Regions from separate parts of the Homo sapiens genome. Here region 2 is linked to region 1. A link means that fine-mapping ties the variant in region 1 to the expression of a gene that starts in the linked region. Tissue or cell type: ileum. Region 1 holds a variant in brackets; the other region holds the start of a gene. All regions are shown on one strand. Distances are from middle to middle.

The links. PIP is the estimated chance that this variant, and not a neighbour inherited with it, causes the effect.
Region 2: it holds the start of FRS3, and the variant in region 1 is fine-mapped to the expression of FRS3 in ileum (GTEx, PIP above 0.99).

The regions. Positions count from the first base shown.
Region 1 is chr6:41,956,066-41,958,745 of GRCh38, reverse strand. It overlaps a transcript of CCND3 not described here. Among named protein-coding and RNA genes, the nearest start is that of CCND3, 16 kb to the right of the region's middle. The variant A/T (reference allele first, on the strand shown) is at 1,194.
Region 2 is chr6:41,778,582-41,781,261 of GRCh38, reverse strand. It overlaps FRS3 (fibroblast growth factor receptor substrate 3), which reads left to right and starts at 1,362. Exons shown (of 7, transcript NM_006653.5): 1 at 1,362-1,446. PRICKLE4 (prickle planar cell polarity protein 4) reads right to left here and starts at 480. Exons shown (of 8, transcript NM_013397.6): 1 at 436-480. RefSeq lists silencers at 697-766, 1,047-1,456, 1,487-1,636.

The sequences.
Region 1 (2,680 bases):
GAACATATTCTTACCCTACCTAGATACCAAAAAAATTAGAAGATTCAATTCCTGATTTCAGGGAACTTTCTGGCCACATGATGAGTCAAAGCCCCAAACCCACATACTTGAGTCAATTAAATAATCAAGTAAAGGTAAATTAGTAAGAAGGAAAGCAAAGCACATCTAAATTCCCCCAGGAGACTATATTCTCTTTAAGAGAAAAGAACTGTTTTATTTGTCTTTGTATTGTTTGTGGCCCCAGGTATATCTTGTGTTTGATAGGATCTCAATAAAGTTCTGTGGACCAAGTGAATGAATAATACAAATTCTACTGTACAGAATAGAATGACTCACCTAGCAGGGGTTTTCGAGTTTGGGGGAAGTATGGCTTTTTGCTAAAAATGTAAATATATATTTTTTGCTCCATGCTGTAACAACCCTAATGACAATTTAAAAATGAAAAAGTAGGCCAGGCATGGTGGCTCACACCTGTAATCCCAGCACTTCGGGAGGCCAAGGTGGGCGAATCACTTGGAGTCAGGAGTTCAAGACCAGCCTGGCCAACATGGTGAAAACCCGTCTCTACTAAAAATACAGAAATTAGCTGGGCATGGTGGCTTGCAACTGTAGTCCCAGCTACTCAGGAGGCTGAGGCAGGGAATCACTTGAACCCAGGAGGTGGAGGTTGCAGTGAGCTGAGATTGCATCACTGGTCTGTCTGTCTGGGTGACAGAGAGATTCTGTCTCAAAAAAAAAAAAAAAAGATAAAGATAAAGTAAGGTAAAGTTTGGTGGCTCATACCTGTAATCCCAGCACTTTGGGAAGCCGAGGTAGGAGGATTGCTTGAGGCCAGGAGTTCGAGACCAGCTTGGACAACATAGACCCCATCTCTGCAAAAAATTTTAAAAAACAAAAATAAATAGAAATGAAAAAGCAAATAACCTACAATGAGAGGAATCTGGAACTGTGAATGGCTGACAACAGGTTGGGAAAGACTATCCAAACAGGGGAATTGCCTGAGCAGAGAGGCAGGAATCAAAGCACACATCTTCATGCAGGGTACCTCTTCCAGCAGGTTAACCTTTGGAACTACAAAGATGTGGTGCCTACCCTCAGGAATTTCCATTTTTTTGGGAGAAAACAGGATTTATTCACAGGAAACAAGGAGAATACTTTACAACAACCATTAAGTGGATGCGTGCCCTTAAGCG[A/T]CATTGATCCTTCTGGCCCTAAATTTCTGTGATCTTTCAATTCCACACCCTGCGAGCTTCATGGAACAGATGGGCCAGGAGCTAGGCCTTAAGGGAAGAGGCTGGATTTGGAGAAAGAAGCAGGATGCCAGCGGTGGGTGATAAGGCCCAGAGGTGGGCTGGAGTGCTAGGGCTGAGATAAAATTGGTTAGGGCTGCTGGGGCCTCTTCTTGAAGGCAATTTTGAAAACCAGGCTGGTTGTCTTTTAAATTTAACCTGATAAGCAGGTCCTTGGACTGAAGACGAAAGGAGTGTCTGTGAGAGATTAATCAGATGGCCTTGGGCCATTGATTTGGATCTATCTGGAAGCAATGTGAAGATGAGGCTCTCTGGGAGGCTTTTGCAACAGTAATATAGGCCCAGCCTTTCAACGGAGGATTTGAAAACCCCTAGGAAAACTCCTTCTGCCAGTTGTTTGTGTGGAGTTAACTTTTCCTTTAGTAACTTAAACCATTGTTTTTTGTTTGTTTGTTTGTTTGTTTTGAGACGGAGTCTCATTCTGTTGCCCAGGCTGGAGTGCAGTGGTGCGATCTTGGCTCACTGCAAGTTCCGCCTCCCGGGTTCATGCCATTCTCCTGCCTCAGCCTCCCCAGCAGCTGGGAATACAGGCGCCTGCCACCACGCCCGGCTAATTTTTTTTTGTATTTTTAGTAGAGGCGGGGTTTCACTGTGTTAGCCAGGATGGTCTCGATCTCCCCACCTCGTGATCCGCCCGCCTCAGCCTCCCAAAGTGCTGGGATTACAGGCTTGAGCCACCGCGCCTGGCCACCATTGTTTTATATTACAACAATTAGGGCTATCTTAAGGGCCAGAATCCAAGATGTATATAGGTTTCTAAGGCAGAATATTTAGACTTCAAATAAATTTCAGTTTTGCAGAGGGCAATCAGATTTAGATCATGCTATCAGATTCCTCAGAGAAATCCATTCTTCTTTGCTGTAAAGGGTTTAAAATCTGAGGACTAAAGAAAGATGGTGCCATACATAAACATGTGTAAGTTGCAAGCAGGGTGGGAATATGATGGCCTACCTTTAGAACGTTGAGGATCAGCCTTGCTTAGTACTAGGAAAGTTCTGGCCAGGTTGGTAATGGAGGCGGAGCCAGCACCTCATGGTCTTTCCCAGCCCTTTCTAAAGGCCCTAGTTCTGCCCACTGAACTGGCATGTTTGGCACTTTCCTGGTTTATGTTTATTTATTTATTTTATTTTATTTTATTTTTTTTGAGAAGGAGTCTCGCTCTGTCGCCCAGGCTGGGGTGCAGTGGCACAATCTTGGCTCACCGCAACCTCCACCTCCTGGGTTCAAGTGATTCTCCTGCCTCAACTTCCCAAGTAGCTAGGATTACAGGGGCCCACCACCACACCCGGCTAATTTTTGTATTTTTAGTAGAGACAGGGTTTCACCATGTTGGCCAGGCTGGTCTTGAACTCCTGACTTTGTGATCCACC
Region 2 (2,680 bases), 180 kb after region 1:
AAACTCCACCTCCACCTAGCACTGGAACACCCTTACTAACAGGCCAGCTGGATTCCTTCCATAATTCCCTTCCCCCTCCCACCTCAGATAAGGGACAGAGCTGAACCCCTTGTCTTGCCTCCGTGCAGAGCCTCCGTGCAAGAGGGCTCAGGAGCTGGACATCCCCAACACCCGCTGCCCTGAAGGGCAGAGCCCGAGAGGACTTAGGGCTTGGGGAGGTGGAGGGATGGGAAGATTTCTGGGGACAGTGGGAGGGAGAAGGAAGGGGAGTGCCCAGTCCCGCCAACTGCCCTCTCGATAGATCCCCAGAGTTTTTCTGGAACTTGGCGGGCCCGCCTCCGGGGCTGGGACGCGGTGTTTCCCGAGTCCGCTGGGGTTCCCGGTCTGGCTGCTGGGATTTTAGGGGAGGGGACCAGGACTCCGCTGGGGTCTCACCCTCGCTGTGCGTCGCTGTCCGGGCAGTTCTGGACCGACTCTGCCGTCAGGCCCCTCACCCGGTCCCCACCCCAAGGCTTCAGCGCCCGCCCCCGTCCGCCCCCGCCCGCCCTAATAGCGCGGCCCTTCCTCTCCCACGCCCCAGCGGCCCCCGCCCGCCCCTCCCCGGCTGGTGGAGAGGGGCGGCTCAGGGAGGGGCCTGGAGCTGCAGATTGGGGGGAGGAAAAAAAAAAGGAAAACAAAACCACATTTATGGGATCTCAGGGTGGAAATGTGCGGGCTCCATGGCCTCTGCCATGCAGGTGCAAGGGCTCTCTGGCTCGGACTGCGCCCGGCAGGCATCCAGCAGACGCCGGGAGCCGCGTTTACGCTGGGTTTTCAACCATTCGCTGAATGGAAACGCCTCGCCGGGCCCGCAGCCCTGTCTCTCCGCAGTTCCCAGGTCTCCCCAAACTCTCCCTGTGGTCTCCCAGCCCCGCTCCTCCGCGTGTTTCCCTTCAGTTCTCTCCCCCTTGTCCCCAGTGGTCCCCCTGGCCCCTTCCCCTCCCCTCAACCCTCTTCCAGGTTCCATCGTCTTGCCCTTCTCCTTTCAGGTCCCTTCAGACCCTCTCCCCTTCCCTTCGTTTCTCGCCCAACCCTCCGTCCCCTTTCCGCTCCCCGGACCACCCCCAACTTTGGTGTCCTCAGCCCCGCCTCCGCGCCCCGCCTCCGCCGCAGGCTCCGCCCTGTCCCCTCCGGGCTTGCTCAGCCCCTGGCCAGGAGCGCCCTCTGGCGTCTGCGCATGCTCACTGCTCCCGACTGCAAAGTCCTCCAAAGGGACCTTCTAGGCTGCGTGCCGGTCGCCCCCGCTCGGGTCCGCCAGCCCGCAGCGTCTCGTTGGTGCTGCCGGTGACCTCCGACCCCGCGGCCGCGGGGCGGGGCGGGGCGGGGAGGCCTTAGCTCCGGGCGGGCGGCGGCTGCTGCAGCGGGACCCGGGAGCGGGGCCCGGCGCCGCCCGGGCCGCGGGGCGATGTGAGTCGGGGCGCGGCGGGGCGGGGACGAGGCGGCTTCACCGAGGCCGCGCCGCGCCGCGCCGCGCCGCGCCGCAGTCTCCACTCCCTCCCTAGGAAGCCCCGGGCGGGCGGGCAGGCGGCGGAGCACCGGGGCTGGGGGCGGGGATCCGGGGACAGCGCGCACCCAGACCTCCTCATTCCTTACGGGCATGTAGAAATTCCCCTTGACAGTCCTGTAGCCTGTCCTGCAGCCTCTGGCTCCCCCAACCCACCTCTACCCTCTCCGCCCTGGACACATCATCGCATCTCCTGGAGCCCTCAGAACCCCCTCATTCACTCAACAAATCTCCTGCTATGCCCACGGACCCACCATTTCTCTTGGATGCCCCCAAATGCTTCCACTGCCCGGAAATTCCTAGGATCCCTCATATCCCCATTCTCCTTGCACTATCCAAAATGCCCACATCCAAAATTCTTGCTCATGTTTCCCCAAACGTCCTCATACGTTTTCAGCCCCCACACCCCCCTCTCACTCCTGCCCCTGATCCATACCTATCCCAGACCAGAGGCCTCTCCCCATTTCCACTCAATGCAGTCCCTCCTCAGTGGGCTATCTGATACATCCTGATATCTTAAGGAGAAGAGATGGTGATAGGGAAATTCAGCCCCTCCCCCATCTTGCACCCTAGAGTTCTTCGTTTCAGTGCCCGCGCCGTGCCCCCGTCGGTGGCTCAAGCCCCAGTATTTTCCCAGCAACCTATCTTTAGTCTGTGCACACCTCCCTGAGCCTGCTTCTTCCTTCCAGAAAATAAGCCAGACCAAGGGGATGGGGTCCTTTTACCTGGAAGTTGTCCAAGGATGCAGGGTGCAAGGGGCCCTGGGAAGTGTTTCTCCAGAGCAGGAATGTGGGATGTCCAGGGTCTGCAGAGTCCTGGCTTGTTGACTTGTCTACCTTGGGCTCAGATATCCTGAAATTTTGGCTTACTGTTAACATTTATGTTAAAATTAGGCCTTTCAGAGCTTGGGGAGCAGAAAATCTATCAAGCTTCCAAATGCGAAATTGAAGCAGCCTGTCTTGGAAGATGAACATGTCAATTTTAGTGAAGTTTGTCTTACGTTTTTACCTCTGCAAGTTATTTAAGCTAGAAGCTCCCCAGTTTATAGATGGTTCCCCCAAAAACTAAGGCCTTAGGTGGGAGTTGGGGGGGGCGTTGACTTAAGTCTCCCAGATACTTAGTAGCAACAAAACTGAC